Regions from separate parts of the Homo sapiens genome. Here all the other regions are linked to region 3. Evidence: fine-mapped expression QTL. A gene starts in region 3. Each other region holds a variant in brackets. All regions are shown on one strand. Distances are from middle to middle.

Evidence for each region. PIP is the estimated chance that this variant, and not a neighbour inherited with it, causes the effect.
Region 1: its variant is the best candidate, but not a certain one, in a credible set for the expression of DUS2 in whole blood (INTERVAL, PIP 0.89).
Region 2: its variant is the best candidate, but not a certain one, in a credible set for the expression of DUS2 in whole blood (INTERVAL, PIP 0.62).

The regions. Positions count from the first base shown.
Region 1 is chr16:67,912,366-67,919,437 of GRCh38, reverse strand. All of the region lies in intron 2 of PSKH1 (protein serine kinase H1), which reads right to left. Among named protein-coding and RNA genes, the nearest start is that of CTRL, 16 kb to the left of the region's middle. RefSeq lists enhancers at 1-46, 3,199-3,722. The variant A/T (reference allele first, on the strand shown) is at 4,228.
Region 2 is chr16:68,118,590-68,123,589 of GRCh38, reverse strand. NFATC3 (nuclear factor of activated T cells 3) reads right to left here. Exons shown (of 10, transcript NM_173165.3): 2 at 469-1,603. Among named protein-coding and RNA genes, the nearest start is that of NFATC3, 36 kb to the right of the region's middle. RefSeq lists a silencer at 4,389-4,518. The variant C/T (reference allele first, on the strand shown) is at 2,631.
Region 3 is chr16:68,019,474-68,026,545 of GRCh38, reverse strand. It overlaps DUS2 (dihydrouridine synthase 2), which reads right to left and starts at 3,262. Exons shown (of 17, transcript NM_017803.5): 1 at 3,195-3,262; 2 at 1,052-1,131. It overlaps DDX28 (DEAD-box helicase 28), which reads left to right and starts at 3,314. Exons shown (of 1, transcript NM_018380.4): 1 at 3,314-5,630. The coding sequence starts at 3,344. The coding sequence ends at 4,966. RefSeq lists enhancers at 3,162-3,401, 3,112-3,862, 3,863-4,613.

The DNA.
Region 1 (7,072 bases), 110 kb after region 3:
CTGGCAGGGAAGAAGGGCTTAGGGACAGATGCCTCATAGCAAAGAATTCTAAACTGATTTGTGTTTGCTCGTGCTGTCAGCTATTGAGACAGTCGTGGGAAAGCCATCCTCTGACTCTGGGAGCAGGGGTCAGTGAGAAGAGAGTTGAGCTGATGGGTCCATCACAGTCCCCACCCACACTGAAGGTGAGAAAAGTCAGGCAATTAAAGCATCCAGGAGAATCCAAGCATAAGCCAGGAAACACGCTCCCCGCTTCCCTGCCTCCACTCTGCCACCAGCATATACATTTGGTCTCCTGCTCTCCAGACACCCGGACAGCGCTCCCCATGACTCTGGGATGAGGTCCTATCCCTGCTCACATGGCTGCTCCTTGTGACATATGCGGGGAGATGAGGGGCAGGGAGGGAGACAGAAAGTCAGAGCATAGGACCAGGCTGCATAACCAAGCCCCGTCACCTAGAGAGCACTGAGACATGCCACATTCTCTGCATCTCATTTTATCTTCTACATCCCAAGGCATGTTAGAGTCACTTTAAGAAGTGGGGAGGTCGAGTGTGGTGGCTCACACCTGTAATCCCAGCACTTTGGGAGGCCAAGGCAGGCAGATCACCTGAGGTCAGGAGTTCCAGACCAGCCTGGCCAACGTGGTAAAACCCCGTCTCTACTAAAAATACAAAAATTAGCCAGGTGTGGTGGCTGGCACCTATAATCCCAGCTACTTGGGAGGCTGAGGCAGGAGAATTGCTTGAACCCAAAAGGTGGAGGCTTTGGTGAGCCGAGATCACACCACTGCACTCCAGCCTGGGCGACAGAGTAAGACTCCATCTCAAAAAAAAAAAAAAAAAGAACTACAGGTGGTCAAGCTCATTGCCCCTTCAGGTATACTTAGCCCCAGATCAATGTATGGTCAACCTGCAGACCAGACACCCAACCCTGGGAGGCCACCTCCCACCAGCCCTTGTCACCCAGGTAGCAGCAGAGTGGCTATGAAGGTGGGCTTCCTCTCCCAACAGTACTCTGTCCCCTGCCCAGCAGCACTCACAAGGCTCTGTGAGAAATTCTACCCAAGCCCACCTGTTCCTAGTACAGTCACCTGGGCTCACCCACAGCTCAGAGACTGGCCAAGCAGAGGAGGGTGATAATTCAGGATGCTGAATGCAGCAGACAGCAAAGCTCCTAATGGCATCACTCTAATATCAATCCTACAAGAGCCCCTTCATCCGTCCTGCCTCTAGGAATAGAACTCTTGACAAAAGCACTGACATCAAGGATGTCACATTTCATGTCAAGTGAATCACAGACTCTCTGCATTGGAGGACCCTGACAGTTCTCTAGCATGAGTCTGTAGCTGATGACTCACCTTCTGTGTCATCCTTTAGAAACAGCTCCTCCAGGCCTCCTGTGATAGGAAGCCGCCTCTCAAGGTGACTGTGTCCTCAAACTGCTCTCACATTCACACAGGCCTTCGCTACCTCTCCCAACCTGTGTCTCCCCACCACTTCCAGCATGCCCTCTCCACTCCAGCGTGCCCTCTCCACTCCAGTGCCTCTGGGTGCTGGGTAAACATTCAGATTTTTCCTTTCCAGTCATCTCCTCCTCAGCATTTACCCCTCTTCCAAGAGTCTTGTATTTGCCCTAAAAGTTGACAAGCACACACCAGCCCTGGGCCTTTAAATCCTCCCCCTGCCTGTGCCCACAGGCAGCTGTGGCCAGCAGCCCCCTAAGCGCATTGCCAGCAGGCTCTCTGCTTCCTCCTGGAGTCTGGCCCCTTGAGGGGAGCACTCCACTGGCTGCACAGCCTGTCTGCCTGCCAGCAGTCACATTTGGGACGCTTCCCAGGGCATCACCAATAGCCACTGGTGCTTCCCTCAGGAGAAGCCAAGAGAAAATTCCCCCACCAGTTATCACTTATAAATACTGCAGTTCAACCCAGCATACAGGTACCACTGTGCACTAAGCCTGGACACGACAGTGGACAGCATATGTATTGATGTACATGCTGTCCTCAAGGACCCTACAGGCTAGACAGGAGAGATGTGTCCACTGATCAGCAGCCAGAAAGCACTGAAACAAGAAACCAGCAACGTGCTGAGGCACACATACCAGGGAGAGCAGACTGCAGCACTAGACAGGCCAAGAACTCTGAAGCCAAGACAGCCTGGAATCAAATCCCAGATGTGCCACCCTCCAGTCGGGAGACCATGGCCAAGTTATGTAACCTCACCATCCTCAGTTTCCTCATCTGTAAGGTGGGGGATTACGTACCACCTGGCAGGGTTGTCATAGATTGGAGATGGGGGGTGTAGAACATTCAGCCCTGGGTCTGCTACTTAGTGGGCACCACACAATGGCAGTAGGCAGCATTATTTCTAAAGGAAACAACTAAGACCGATACTGGGAGCAGCGTGAACAGTTGAGGCAGAAGCTTGGTGTGGAGAGTGAATGGGGGCAATGGCTCAGGCCTGTGGTGTGCAGGGAGTGGGGTGGGGTCTAGGGCATGGGCTTCAGGCTGGGGGATCTGGAGTGCCAGGATGGTAGGCAGGACCCCACATGCTCTCCAGGTCAGAGGGTAGCCTGGAATCCTCTCCAAGTCTGCCCATACAAGCTGATGTCCCTCCTGCAGAGCTAGGACTCTGCTCCATACTCCTTCACCTCCTATACTGTGGCTTACATATGCCATGTGGATCCCACTCCCTGGGATCCCTGATCTGCCCCAAACATCCCCAGGAGGACAGGATGGAATTATTCCAGTAGCCTCCAGCTAGCCTTCCTCCTGCCAGGCTCCATTCCCACTTTCTGCTGCCTTCCTCCTCCATTACCCAGAACCCAGAGGGCTCCTCCCACAGTGCAGAGGGCTCCCAACAACAAACACCAGACCTGCCCCAGCCTCTTCAACCTCTGCTCTGTCACTCCCAATCTCCTGTTTATTCTGGAGCACTCAGCAATGCTCCCTTCTCTGGGCCTCCTCCTTCTCAAAACTCATCTTCTGCAGGAAGCTTTCTATTCAAGTCCATGGATGCCACTGAGCCTGACAGAGGACTGGGGCTGCATGGACAGAGCTTGCAGGAAATAGGCACACCAGACCCGGCCTGGTGTACAGGGGAGAGCACTCTATGGGGTCAGGGAACAGGAAAGGTGCCCCTAGAAAGGCACCAAGCACCACGAGACACTCGCTGGTGAAGAATGCATACCTCCAAACGCTGCTGCGTCAGAGGTCCTTCATTCACACAGCAACAACCCCCTCATCATGGAACACTCTCTCTCTCACAGGTTATCCTGGCAGAGGCTTGCTCACTTACATGGCCTTCCTAATGGCAAACACCTATTACACATATAGGACAGATGGCTGGAGTGGGTGGGGTCAGGGCCCAACCACCTGACCTGAGCACCATAGTCCATGTTCCAGACTGCCCAGGCCCAGTGGCTCTATGCCAAGGCCTGTGTTCACATGTGTCTGCCAATGCGGGTTCATTCTATGGCCATTCCCTATTCTAGTTCCTTCTCCCCAGGCAATCTCAACCTCTAGGGATAGGAAGAACAGGCCTTCACGTCTCTTGCATTTTCCCCAGGTGTGAGCAGGTGTGCTTGTGGGTGGGCAGTGGCCAGGAGAACAACAATAACAAAAAATGCCTGTCCTAGTGTCCTGGGATAGAGCTATAAAAGCATGCCAGGTTGCTGGCAGGAGCTTGAAGGAGGTGCTGCCTCTGCTTACCAGGAGACCGTCTAGCTGTGAAGTGAGTGGCTGGAAGGAGTGATTGCTGGGTCCCATTCTAGCGATGTCTGTCCTCACCTCCATGCAGAAAAGTAAAGAGAAACCAGGGCTCTGCCAGGGAGTGGCAGAGGCTGGTACTTCTCAGACTCCTGATGTTTATGCACATCCCCTGGAATCTCATTAAAATGTAGATTCTGATTCAACAGGTTTTGTGGGGCCTGAGGGTCTGCTGGATGTTCTCCAGCTGAGAGAGCCTGATCTCATGATAAGGACCCCTCCCCCAGGAAATGTCCCAGACGGATCCCTCCCAACCCAGAGCTCTCCACAGCGGGTGATAGAATCTGATTTTTGGGGTCAGGCAAGCTCCTGGTCACAGATAAGGGCCACCAGAACCTGCCAGGATTTGCCTCTGGAGCTGGAAACTGATGCTTTTCAGCTCCAGGTAAAGGGTAGTGGGAGCAAAGGCTGAGCAGTGCCTCTCCAACACACACACACACACACACACACACACACAC[A/T]CTCTCTCTCTCTCTCACTCACTCACTCATTCACTCACTCATTCACTGTGAGCTGCAGAGTCCTGCCCTGTGATTCCAGCAGAAGAACAACAGAATCTAAGGACCCAGTCTTTCGGCTACAGTAGGAGCGGGCAGGAACCCACTCCCCACCCCATTCGTCATTTTCCAACCCTCAGGTAATCAATAGCCAGTTAGCAAGACTGTGCAAGCTCCAATTAGATTAGCTGCCAGGTCAACGACTGCCAGAATCAGGAACTCAGGCAAACCTACAGGCTTGTAGCAGAGTCCTTCCTCTGTCAGCGTATCTTGGGAAATCTCTCTCCCTCACTCCTGGGCTAAGTTCAATGCCCCCTCTGCCAGCTGGACCCTCAACAGCCTGGCACCATGCAGTGCTCCCAGAACACAATCAGCTTCTCAAGCTTCAGACATTCCCAGATCTATCTTAAAATTTCAGTTTCACCGGGTGCGGTGGCTCACGCCTGTAATCCTAGCACTTTGGGAAGCTGAGGCGGGCAGATCACCTGAGGTCAGGAGTTTAAGATCAGCCTAGCCAATATGCCGAAACCCCGTCTCTACTAAAATACAAAAATTAGCCGGGCATGGTGGCACACTCCTGTAATCCCAGCTACTCGGGAGGCTGAGGCAGGAGAATCGCTGGAACCTGGGAGGTGGAGGCTGCAGTGAGCTGAGATCGTGCCACTGCACTCCAGCCTGGGCGACAGAGCGAGACTCCATCTCAAAGAAAAAAAAAAAATTCAGACCGGACACAGTGGCTCACGCCTGTAATCCCACCACTTTGGGAGGCTGAGGCAGGCGGATCACCTGAGGTTGGGAGTTCGAGACCAGCCTGACCAACAAGAAGAAACCCCATCTCTACTAAAAATACAAAATTAGATATCTGGGCATGGTGGCGCATGCCTGTAATCCCAGCTACTTGGGAGGCCGAGGCAGGAGAATCGCTTGAACCCAGGAGGCGTAGGTTGCAGTGAGCCAAGATCGCCCCATTGCACTCCAGCCTGGGCAACAAGAGCGAAACTCCATCTCAAAAAAAAAAAAATTCAGTTTCAGCTACAACTTCACGTGGTTCTCCAGAGCCTGCTATTAGGACAACTGAACTTCCCAAGTACCCTGCAGGGTCCTCTGACGGACCACAGCTATATATGAACCTGTCCCTCAGGCCATTGCCCCCAGGCCTGCCTCCTGCTTTCTCCCTCCTATACTTCTGTAGCTATCATTCCCTTTTTCTTGGTCTGACTCCTCACAGCCATGCTCCAAATTCCAGGTTCCCTCTTCTCTAAGACTGTCCCTCACCACCCCAGCCCACTTTTAAGGCACCTGCCTAAAAAACCTGCTCCTAAAGCATGTTCTTATAGGTCAGTGTTATCAACACCACCTGGTGTTTATTAGAAATGCAGACCCTCAGGCCCTACCTAGACCTATTAAATCAGAATCTACATTTTAACGAGATTCCAGGGGATGTGTATGAACATCAGGAGTCTGAGAAGTACCAGCCTCTGCCACTCCCTGGCAGGGCTCTGGTTTCTCTTTACTTTTCTGCATGGAGGTGAGGACAGACATCGCTAGAATGGGACCCAGCAATCACTCCTTCCAGCCACTCACTTCACAGCTAGACGGTCTCCTGGTAAGCAGAGGCAGCACCTCCTTCAAGCTCCTGCCAGCAACCTGGCATGCTTTTATAGCTCTATCCCAGAACACCAGGACAGGCTTTTTAAAAAAAAAAATTTTTTTTAAGACAGGGTCTTGGCCAGGTGTGGTGGCTCACATCTGTAACCCCAGCACTTTGGGAGGCCAAGGCAGGCAGATCACCTGAGGTCAGGAGTTTGAGACCAGCCTGGCCAACATGGTGAAACCCCATCTCTACTAAAAATACAAAACATTAGCCGTGCGTGGTGGCGCATGCCTGTAGTCCCAGCTACTCGGGAGGCTGAGGCGGGAGAATCACTTGAACCTGAGAGGCGGAAGCTGCAGTGAGCCAAGATCGCACCCCTGCACTCCAGCCTGGGTAACAGGGCAAGACTCCGTCTTCACACAGGCTGGAGTGCAGTGGCACATTCACAGCTCCCTGCAACCTTGAACTCCTGGGCTCAAGTGATCCTCCCACCTCAGCCTCCTGAGTAGCTGGGACTACAGGCATGTGCCCACACCTGGCTAAAAAAAATTTTTTTTAAGAGATGGGGTCTCGCTATGTTGCCCAGGCTGGTCTCAAACTCCTGGCTTCAGGTGATCCTCCTGCCTCAGCCTCCCAAACTGTGCTGAGATTACAAATGTGAGCCACCATGCCCAGCCTGGGAGAGGATTTCTTTTTTTTTGTTTCTTTTTTTGAGACAGAGTTTCGCTCTTGTTGCCCAGGCTGAAGTGCAATGGCACAATCTCGGCTCACTGCAACCTCTGCCTCATGGGTTCAAGTGATTCTCCTGCCTCAGCCTCCCGAGTAGCTGGGATTACAGGCATGTGCCACCACGCCCGGCTAATTTTGCATTTTTAGTAGAGACGGGGTTTCACCATGTTGGTCAGGCTGGTCTCGAACTCCCAACCTCAGGTGATCTGCCCACCTTGGCCTCCCAAAGTGCTGGGATTACAGGCGTGAGCCACCGTACCCGGCTGGGAGAGGATTTCTTATTGCCAGTTTATAGCCACAGATTGTGCCAACCTGATGGCCAATCCATATCTGAGAACCAAGTAAACATCAAGGCATTGCCCCAACGTTACTGAGGGGATCATCATCAGGATAAAGGGGCTTGTCTTTAAATTGTTCCCTCTATCACCACCTGTGCCTGCTCCTCTCACTCTTCCCAGTGCCTTCCATAGACACCAAAAGCTCACA
Region 2 (5,000 bases), 98 kb before region 3:
GGCTCAAGCAATCCTTCCACCTCAGCCTCCCAAGCAGCTAGGACTACAGGCAGACATCACTATGCCTGGTTAATTTTTTTTTTTTTTTTTTTGTAGAGACAGGATCTTGCTATGTTGCCCAGGCTAGTCTCAAACTCCTGGGCTCAAGCAATCCTCCTGCCTCAGCCTCCCAAGTGTTGGGAATACAAAGCATAAGCCTCCAAACCTAGCAAGGATTTTTAAATGTAATTTATTATTATCAACAATTCATTAGCTATATATTTTAAAATTATATTTAACCTATCTAAAAATACTTTTAAGATGCAAATGAAAATAAACATTAAGTTATTTGGTAAAATTTTTTTTAAAAATAGGAAGAGGAGAAATGGTCAAACCATTATATAACCATTATATACTGATAATGTAGTTATATGCCACCAATGACCCATAAACATGAAAAATGACCAGCAGCCATTTCCATCAACTCACCGAAATATAGGGGTGTGGCCAGGCTTTGGTTTGCTCCAGGTAAAGGGTGAAGGAACTGAAAGAAACTGATCACCACATGAATCTTTCTTTAAAGGATACTGAGATCCAAGGCCATCATCTATTGAAGTCTCCCGGGCTGGTGATAAACTCCCTTGGTCATCTGAACACAGCTCTAATTTTCCTGGTAGTATGGCAGCTTGATCTTCAGAAGTTTTCCTTGTTTTGAGAGGGATGTCAGTCTCTACACAGTACTGAAATGGAAAAACTGCAGGGCCAAGGCCTGACCCACCATGGACAGAAGCATTGAGCCACGTATCTTCTGTCACACTTCCCCTGGGGGAGTGACCAGGTGAAGGAACAGGTGAGTGATGGGGTGAAAGGGACCCAGCATAACAAACTTCAGCACTGGAGTGCCTCCGTTTCCCACAGGGGGATGTGGGCCTTGATGAGGGTCCTGAGGCTGGCCTGGGGCTCAGCCAATTCTCATCAGTGACACTGGATCTAGGAGAGTGGCAAGGAGATTGCCTGGGTGATAATGAGTGTCCAAGTCCATACTGTTGATGCCAAGTTTCTTCTCCAGGGCAGCCCCCTGGAGAGCCACCAGGAGAAGTCAGAGGGGATCCAAGGGTAAATCGGGCTGCAGCTTCATTCAACTCTGAGTCCACATCATCATAAATATGTGAAAGCGATTCACAAGAAGATGCATCAGAGAACCAACTCCTAGAAGAGATGCTGCTGGCAGGACTAGGACTAAGAGAAGACTCCCGGTAGGATGGCTCAAGAGGAAGATAGAGATGATCTCTAGAAGGCCTTTCCAAAAATTCCCGTTCTGGGTCATTTATCTGTAGGTCATCTTCATGTGCATCTAATTCTTGATGACAGTTAGGAGAGATAGATGTAATTTGAATACTTGGGCACTCAAAGGGTTTGGGACCACCTAATGGGCTATATTTAGATTCAGGAATCTCACAAGTTCCTTCATAGTTTTTGTGACTTTGGAGCTGAAACGATGGTGACAAAACAGAAGAGTGAGACGGTAATCCATGATGTGGTAAGCAAAGTGGTGTGGTTAAAGTAGATGGAGGTGGATCTACATTAAAGATGTAAATGGATGCACAATCATCTGGCTCAAGATCTACGGGGAGGAAGGCAAAAAAAAAAAAACCCAACAAAACAAGAAATTAGAAAACTCAGATGTATAAATTACTAGATGAGAAAGTAAATAATAACAATCTCGAGAGAAAAAAGTGGGATATAAAATGTATGTCATTAGCTCCACTAAAGAAGTGGCATGTGTGTGTTTTTTCAATGCATCTGGTTATTTCTGCAGATATGTGTGATTATTACATATACAATTACATATGTAATTTTTCCTTTTTATGTCCACATTTTCTAAAAAGATAATCAGGAAACATTATGCCCTGAAAAAGATTTTTTTTTTTTTTTTTTGAGACAGGGTCTCACTCTCTCACCTAGACTGGAGTGCAATGGTGTGATCATAGCTCACTAAAGCCTCAACCTCCCATCCTAGGCTCAAGTGATCCTTTCCTCAGCCTCTGGAGTAGCTGGGACACAGGTACATGCCACACTCCTGGTTACTTTTTATTGTCATTTTTGGTAGACACAGGGCCTTGCTTTGTTGCCAAGGCTGGGCTCAAGCTATCCTCCCACCTTAGCCTCCCAAAGTGCTGGGATTACAGGTGTGAGGGAGCGTCTGTGCCCAGCTCAATAAATGTGTTTATTAAAAAAAAAAAAACACATCCATAATTCTAAAAAATACTCATAGCATACAGGCTGCAGTGAGCTCAGATCACGCCACTGTACTCCAGCCTGGGTGACACAGCAAGACTCCGTCTCAAAAAAAAAAAAAAAAAAAAAAGAAAAGAAAAGAAATGAGATATTCCTAGGCTGCAAAGAACAGAAAATCCAACTCAATGTAGCTGAAAAAGGGGGAGGGGACACAGGCTGAATATCCCTTATCCAAAATGCTTGAGGCCAGAAGTGCTTGGGATTTTGGATTTTTTTTTTTTGGCCCATTTACAAATACACAATGAGATATCTTGATATGGGACCCAAGTCTAAACATGAAATACACTTATGTTTCATATATACCTTATTCACATAGCCTGAAAGGTAATTTTGGACAATATTTTTTAATAATT[C/T]GGTGAATGAAAAAAAGTCTGTGTTAAGAATTCTCCACTTGTGGCATCATGTCAGAGCTAAAAAGTATAGGATATTGGAACATTCCAGATTTTGAATATGACCTGTATATATTATCCAACATAACAACCTGCATTATCAACCTGTATATATTATCCAACATAACAAGTAGTCAAAGGTAGGAGAGTTCCAAAAGTGGGTTTTTCTTTGTTTGTTTGTTTGTTTGTTTGAGATGGAGTCTTGCTCTGTCGCCCAGGCTGGAGTGCTGTGGCGCAATCTTGCCTCCTGGATTCAAGCAATTCTCCTGCCTCCTGTCTCAGTCTCCTGAGTAGCTGGGACTACAGGCACTCGCCACCATGCCTAGCTAATTTTTTTTTTTTTTTTTTTTTCTGAGACAGAGTCTCTCTCTGGCTTGAATGCAGTGGTGCGATCTTGGCTCACTGCAACCTCTGCCTCCGAAGTTCAGGCGATTCTCAAGCCTCAGCCTCCCAAGTAGCTGGAATTACAGGTGCCTGCCATGACACTCGGCTAATTTTTGTTATTTTTAGTAGAGACAGGGTTTTGCCATGTTGTCCAGGCTGGTCTCAAACTCCTGACCCCAAGCAATCTACCCTCCTTGGCCTCCCAAAGTGCCAGGATTACAAGCATGAGCCACCACACCCGGACTTTTTTTTTTTTTTTTGAGACTAGGTCTCGCTCTGTCACCCAGGCTGGAGTGCAGTGGTGCACTCATAGCTCACTGCTGCCTCAAACTTCTGGGTCAAGTGATCCTCCCACCTCAACCTTTCAAGTAGCCGAGACCACAGGTGCATGCCACCACTCCCAGCAATTTTTTTTTTTTTTTTTTGTAGAGACAGGGTCTCGTTTTGTTGCCCAGCCTAATCTTGAACTCCTGGGCTCAGGCAATCCAACTGCCCCAGCCTCCCAAAGTGCTGGGATTACAGTTCAACAATGTTCTTCAGAAATGTTTCTTTATTTCACTTTGCCATTTTTGGGGAGCTAACTTTGTGCTGTTCATTTTTCAACCACATATACCTATTCTGTCTACACTGGAAACAACATGATTCAACTTATTCATTTAACAAAAAAATTTTTTAGCAACTACTATGTAAGCAGGCATGTTCTGAATACTAAAAACACCATGGTAAACAAAACAAAATCCCCTCCTCATGGAGCTTACATTCTAGTAAAATATGTCAGGTAGTGATATTTGCTGTAAGAGAAAATAAAACGGGAAAAAATATAGAGGAGGCAAAGATGTTAATTTAATAGGAAAGTCTGGAAAGCCTTCTCTAATACTTGAGGAAATAGCAGAAGAATATTAATGTAACTGAGCTATACAGAAATTTAGGGGCATAATGCAGGCAGAGGATAATAGTAAGTGCAAAGACCTGAGGTACAGCATTGTTGAAGTGTACTGTATGAGAAAAAACAAGGCCAGTGGGACTTGAACTGAGTAAGGAGGCAGAATAATGAGAGCTACGGGTGGTCAGGGAGAGGCTAGTCAAGTAAGGCCTTACGAGATGGGAAACCACTGGAGCATTCTAAACAGAAAAGTATCATCATTTGATATATATGAACTGATATAAATTTAGGAGGCTACTGTAATCATCCAGGTGAGAAAAGATGGAATACAGGACCTAAGTGGTAGTGAGCTGTAAAAGCAGAAGCAGCATTAAGAAGTCAGATTTTGGATTAAAGTAGTGCTGACGGAACTTGTTGACTGGATGTGAAAGAACAGTCAAGGGTGACACCAAGGTTTAAAGCCTTGAACTATTATTAAAAACACAGTATTGGTCGGGCGCAGTGGCTCACACCTTTAATCCCAGCACTTTGAGAGGCCGAGGCGGGTGGATCACGAGATCAGGAGATCACGACCATGCTGGCTAACACGGTGAAACCCCATCTCTACTGAAAATACAAAAAATTAGCCGGGCGTGGTGGCAGGCGCCTGTGGTCCCAGCTGCTCGGGAGGCTGAGGTGGGAGAATGGCGTGAACCCAGGAGGCAGAGCTTGCAGTGAGCCAAGATCGCGCCATTGCACTCCAGCCTGGGCAACAGAGCGAGGCTGTCTCAAAAAACAACAACAACAATACAGTATTTCTGAAATTTTCTGAATTTCTGAAAGAACAGCAATTACTGAAATAAAGAAAGTGAGACAGACTTGAGATAAGAAACCAAAACTTCTACTTTGTACATATTAAATATGAGAGTCCAGTAAGCTTTCCAAGTGGAAATGTCAAATAGATATTTGTGCATAAGAACACAAGCTAGCTATGTAAATGTGGGAATCATTAACGTATATATGAAATTTAAAGCCATAAGACCAAAAGATCACTAAGAAATTAGTACAAATAGAGAAGAAAGTAGGCA
Region 3 (7,072 bases):
AAAAAACAAAGAGCAGGTAGGGAGCTGGATGAGAAGGAAGGTCAAAGGGTCCAGGAATACTATAGTGATAATGACTGAAAATATGATTACCTGCGCACAGCCCTGCTACAGGTGGGAAAATGGAGGAACAATAAAGTAATACCAATAGCACTTTTTATTGCTGTAATGCTTTGCAATTCCCAAAGTGCTTCATTTATAACTGTGATTCTCAAGCCTAGTTACATCTGGAGAGGTTTCTAAAAATACCAATTTCTCGGCTGGGCACAATGGCTCACATCTGTAATCCCAGCACTTCGGGAGGCCAAGGCAGGCAGATCAACTGAGGTCAGGAGTTCGAGATCAGCCTGGTCAAAATGGCAAAACCTCATCTCTACTAAAAATACAGAAATTAGCCGGGTTTGGTAGCACGTGCCTGTAATCCCACCTACTGGGGTGGCTGAGGCAGAAGAATCACTTGAACCTGGGAGGCAGAGGTTACAGTGAGTCGAGATGGCACCACTGAAGTCTAGCCTGGGTGACAGAGCAAGACCTTGTCTAGGCCTTAACCCAAATCAATTAAATCAGAATGTAAACTCCACAAGGGCAGGGATTTTGGCTGTTTTCCTCACTACCAATGCCTGGCACATGCGTGGTGCTCAGGAAGTATTTGTTGAATGAATGATTGAATGAATGAATGAATATACCATTATTAACTGAGATCCAAGGAACACACCAAGCTCCTGATCTCAGGAGCTTAGATTTTTTTTCACAATAAGGATACCTTTCCTATTTCTAAAGCACTACTTATAAAAATATCTCAGAAAACATTTAGAAGTTAATCAATGTCCTCTGTGAGTGAGGGGGAAAAAAGGTAGGCAGTGTCTAGTGATGTGACAAGAAGAAATTAGTGGCCACGGACACAGACAGGCTTAGGCAAGCTCTAACTCCTGTGAAATTTTGAGGTAATCATATTGTAAGGACTCAAGCATAATGAGAAAACAACTATATATTAACCAGCTACCCTACCCTGGATATTTGAACAAAACCCAAAAACCCAAATGCATATACATACCTATTATTTTGTTCTGATACTTCAGGATTACTTTGATATATGTGTTCTGGCTTTGTACAGAGTAATTCTTTGTTTGATATCTGAAAAACAGTGGCACATGGAAATGGATGAAACCTGTTGGGACAAACATCCAAGGGACCTTTTTTTTTTTTTTTTGAGACAGAGTCTCGCCCTGTCGCCCAGGCTGGAGTGCAATGGTGCGATCTCGGCTCACTGCAACAACCTCCGCCTCCCGGGTTCAAACGATTATCCTGCCTCAGCCTCCCGAGTAGCTGGGATTACAGGCATGAGCCTGGCCCCAAGGAACTATTTGGATAAGGAGAAGCCCTGAGTTTGGAAAGAATCATAAAAGTAGCATAGAATTGGGCCGGGCACAGCGGCTCACACCTGTAATCTCAGCACTTTGGGAGACCAAGGTGGGCAAATCATGAGGTCAGGAGTTTGAGACCAGCCTGCCCAACGTAGTGAAACCCTGTCTCTATTAAAAATACAAAAATTAGCTGGGAGTGGTAGCGCACACCTCTAATCCCAGCTACTCAGATGGCTGATGCAGGAGAATCCCTTGAACCCAGAAGGCAGAGACTGCAGTGAGCTGACATCGCACCACTGTACTCCAGCCTGGGCAACACAGTGAGACTGTCTATAAAAAAAAAAAAAAAAAAAGTATCCAGCCATTGTCAAATATGGTGGGAGGGAAAGGGCAAAATCACCCTTGTTTTAGAACCACTACCCTATCCAATGACTGTTCATTCACCCATCACTACTCAAAACTTTCTCTTCCTACTTCCAGATATTTTCTTGTGGAGAAAAAAAGCCTCTCTTCCTCTGATTTATCTGGTAACTCTCCAGAAAGTCTAATTGTGTAGCACAAGGGTAGAGTGTACTTAAAATTGTGAAAGTTTTTCCTCATACTATTCCAAAAAAAGCAAAGTTTTTATCTTTTCATTGGTATTTGATGAAACTAAAACGTTTTCTCCAGATGTTACGAACCTCCCAGAGAGTTAATCCATAAATATTTACCTTATCTCCCACCCCAGGCACTGCAAATTACAGAAAAGATCTGACACCCATTTTCCAGATCTGTTCAAGAAGTATCTGTTGGGCATGGTGGCTCACGCTTATAATCCCATCACTTTGGGAGGCCGAGGTGGGAAGATCGCTTGAGGCCAGGAGTTCGAGACCAGCCAGGCCTACATAGTGAAACCCTGTCTCTACTAAAAACAGAAAAAATTAGCCGGGCGTGGGTGGTGTACGGCTGTAGTCTCAGCTACTTGGGAGGCAGAGGCAGGAGAATCACCTGAACCCAGGAGGTGGAGGTTGCAGTGAGCCGAGATTGCGCCACTGCACTCCAGCCTGGGTGACAGAACGAGACTGTGTCTCAGAAAAAAAAAAAAAAAAAGTGACTCGTATAGTTCTTGTTTTTACAACCCGAATATCTGAATTCAGGTAAAATATTCTGCCTGACCAGGGCTACATGATAAGCCACGTACTTGATCACTTTGTAGGGTCGCAGCACCCTTCTTACTACTATTTTAGGTAATTCAGGTTTCTGACGGGGAAGCCAGTGGAGCTGAGCGGGCTGCAAGAGGGGTGGGTTCTGGATGAGAAGTTGGGACGCGTGACGAGGGAGTAGAGAGTGAACCTTGGCTTAAAAGGAAGGAAAATAACTGTGAAGAAAAGATGACCCAACTTGAAATAAAACCTGAAGACCTTATCTCCCACTTGAGAGAGAGAAGAAGCTGAAAGCCATCAGCTTGCACTCTGGGCTCACAGACAGAGAGGGTGAGGGGTTGAGCCCAGATCTATGACTTCAGACCCCTGTCTCGGCCCCTAGGCCTGATCATTCATTCAAACTCTCAATAAACACGGATTACCAGACCCTGCGCAGGGAACACATCTGGGAAAACAGCTGCAACCTCGGATACCAGCACGGGACAAGCTATCTCAGGGCAATGAGGAACAACTAAAGAGAATCCCAGGAACCAGGTAACCAATCGCCAGAAGCCCTCCGCCCTCATGGTCCATTGGGTCAAGGCCCCACTGCCGCCTCGTATCGCCAGCCTCCAGTCCTGCCTCCACGACGCGCCCTTCCCCAAGGCTGGCCGGGTCTGGATGTCGCCATCCCCTATTCGGAGCTACAGACCTCGCAGCTGAACTCTTAAAAAGAACCTCGCTTCTTCCTCACGGTGCTCCAGCTCCACACACCGTACTGAGCCTCGCCAGCCACCGTACGCGAGGTCGCGGCGCGTCCGTGACGTCACTGATGTGCGCTTCTCCCGCACTAAGGGAAACATGGCTCTAACGCGGCCGGTGCGGCTCTTTTCCCTCGTGACTCGGTTGCTCCTGGCGCCGCGACGGGGCCTCACGGTCCGCAGTCCCGACGAACCCCTGCCGGTGGTGCGCATCCCAGTGGCTCTACAGCGGCAGTTGGAACAGCGGCAGAGCAGGCGGCGGAACCTCCCGAGGCCGGTGCTGGTTCGACCCGGACCGCTGCTGGTTTCGGCGCGGCGGCCGGAGTTGAACCAGCCGGCGCGCCTCACACTGGGCCGTTGGGAGCGCGCGCCGCTAGCCTCTCAAGGCTGGAAGAGTCGACGCGCGCGTCGGGACCACTTCTCCATCGAGCGCGCGCAACAGGAGGCGCCAGCGGTGCGAAAGCTCTCGTCTAAGGGCAGCTTTGCTGACCTGGGCCTGGAGCCCCGTGTGCTGCACGCACTACAGGAGGCTGCGCCTGAAGTCGTTCAGCCCACAACCGTGCAGTCTAGCACCATCCCCTCACTACTTCGCGGCCGCCATGTCGTTTGCGCCGCAGAAACCGGCAGTGGCAAGACTCTCAGCTACCTCCTGCCGCTGCTTCAACGGCTCTTGGGCCAGCCAAGCCTGGACTCCCTTCCTATCCCCGCGCCCCGAGGCCTGGTCCTTGTTCCTTCCCGAGAATTGGCCCAACAGGTGCGGGCTGTGGCCCAACCCTTGGGCCGCTCCTTGGGCCTGCTGGTGCGGGACCTGGAGGGAGGCCACGGCATGCGTAGGATCAGGCTGCAGCTGTCCAGACAGCCTTCAGCAGATGTGCTTGTGGCCACTCCAGGGGCTCTGTGGAAGGCCCTGAAAAGTCGACTGATCAGTCTGGAGCAACTCTCCTTCTTGGTGTTGGATGAGGCAGACACACTGCTGGATGAAAGCTTCCTGGAACTGGTGGACTACATCTTAGAGAAGAGCCACATAGCAGAAGGCCCAGCTGACTTGGAAGACCCCTTCAATCCCAAAGCTCAGTTAGTGCTGGTAGGAGCCACATTTCCCGAAGGTGTAGGCCAGTTGCTGAATAAAGTCGCCAGCCCAGATGCTGTCACCACCATCACCAGCTCCAAGCTCCACTGTATCATGCCTCATGTGAAACAGACATTTCTGAGACTGAAGGGAGCAGATAAGGTGGCCGAGCTGGTGCACATCCTCAAGCATCGTGACAGAGCAGAAAGGACTGGTCCCTCAGGAACTGTTCTGGTGTTCTGTAATAGCTCCAGCACTGTGAACTGGCTGGGATATATTCTGGATGACCACAAAATCCAACACCTAAGGTTGCAGGGGCAAATGCCAGCCTTGATGAGGGTAGGAATCTTCCAGTCCTTCCAGAAGAGCTCCCGAGACATACTTCTCTGCACAGACATAGCCTCTCGGGGCCTGGACAGCACTGGTGTGGAGCTGGTTGTCAATTATGATTTCCCCCCAACGCTGCAAGATTACATCCACAGAGCAGGGAGAGTGGGCCGTGTGGGGAGCGAGGTGCCAGGCACCGTCATCAGTTTTGTGACCCATCCCTGGGATGTGAGCCTGGTTCAGAAGATTGAGCTGGCGGCTCGCCGAAGGAGAAGTCTTCCAGGACTAGCATCCTCGGTGAAAGAGCCTTTGCCCCAAGCAACCTGATTTTGACAAATCTGATTAAAATGTGATGCTAGAACAGGGATCTTTCCCAGTATCTTGAGTGGGTGACCACACTTGTCAGTGGGAGGCTCTGGGCTGCCCTGTCGGCTCCTTGAGGGCGGGATGAACTGCTTTGTGACTTGGAAAGGTACGCTGCTGGCCAGCATTGGAGAAGAAGCTGCTGAGCATGGCTTTCTGTAGTCTTTAGCAAGACACAAGTGGATTTTGACTTTGTATCATGTCATGATTTCTAACAATAAATGATGTTTTTATGTGCCTCCCCTAAGAATAATTAGCACCGGGGCGGAATTCAGTAGTTTCTGAGGATTCATACACCAAACCTCCACATCTAGGACAAAGGCTCTTTCAGTTGATGTTTTCATTTATAAACATTTAGTTTGTATTTCCTGCCCCCAAAAAGGTATCCATTAAGCCCCCAGGGAAAGGAAAGGAAAGGAAATGTGACTAGCAGTAGACAGAGTTACTCTCTAACAATGCCCAAGACAAACGGGCGTCTTGGCGAAATCTCTGGAAGGTACTGGCAGAAAAGTAAAGGGTAGACGAACACAGAAGTTTTGCTTGTACATTTTCAGGTTCTGCCTTCTATCCCAACTCGGTAGCCGAGAAAGAGGAGAGATGATTAAACGGTTTTACAAAACTGGAAAAATAACCATATAGCATTTTCTTTATATATATATATACGTATATATATATATATATATATATATATACATACGTATATATATATATACACATACATATATATACGTATATATATATATGTATATATATATATACGTGTATATATATATACGTGTATATATATATGTGTATATATATATATACACAAAAAAAAATTACAAAAATCAACCCGGCGTGGTGGCACGCGCCTGTAGTCCCAGCTACTCGGGAGGCTGAGGCAGGAGAATCACTTGAACCTGGGAGGCGGAGGTTGCAGTGAGCCAAGATCATACCACTACACTCCAGCCTAGGGGACAGAGCAAGACTCCATCTCAAAAAAAAAAAAAAAAAAAAGCCGGGTGTGGTGGCTCACGCCTGTAATGCCAGCACTTTGGGAGGCTGAGGCAGGAGGATCACCTGAGGTCAGGAGTTTAAGACCAGCCTGGTAAACATGCGAAACCCCATCTCTATTAAAAATACAAAAAAATTAGCTGAATGTGGTGGTGCACGCCTGTAATCCCAAATACTTGGGAGGCTGAGGCACAAGAATGGCTTGAATTCTGGAGGCGAAGGTTTCAGTGAGCCAAAATTGCACTTCTGCACTCCAGCCTGGGTGACAGAGCTGATATTCTGTCTCAAAAAAAATAACAGAATCCTGAGCCCCACTCCAGATGGGATTAAGCTCTCTAAAGTTTGACCTGAGAATACTCTTTGTAAACTCCCCCAGGTGATACTTGGGCCCTCCCAAATTGATAAACCATTTGTCTATGCTGTACTGCCTTTCCCAGAGTCCCAGCAAATTCCTGTAAGGCTTTGTACCCCCACAAGACAAGAGGGATGCTTCCGGACAAGTACTCTCTCCAGAGCCTTGGAGAATCTGAGTGATCTCATGCTAGCCCTCCTGCCAGAACAGACTTCCCAGGAACCATCCCCTTGATATTTTACCTCCTACCACTCCCTGCAGGCCATCAATTAGCACCACACTAAAGCAACTTATGAGAGAAGGTGCTATGATTCTCAACCGGGGTGACCCAGTCTCCAAAGATCGGGCCGTCTCTACCTCCTGGGCATATCCCCTCTGCAATAACCCCACTAAATAAATGTCCCATGTTTGCTTTTTCAAGGCCAGTAATAGGGAGACCTCTCCTTAAGGTCATCTCTCTTTGGTAGGAAGTTCTTGGCCACACTGAACCAAAGGCTGCTCCTAGTGTGGTCCTGATCAGGCTAAGGGCAGAGTTGCCTGTTTCCTTTGAGTAGGACCAAATCGCCTTTTTTTAAATATAAAAAAAATAGACACAAGGTCTAGCTATGTTACCCACGCTGGTCTCAAATTCCTGGGCTCAAGAGATACTCCTGCCTCCACCTCGCAAAGTGCTAGGATTACAGGTGTGAGCCGCCACGCCTGGCCCTAATGACCTTTTGGTACCT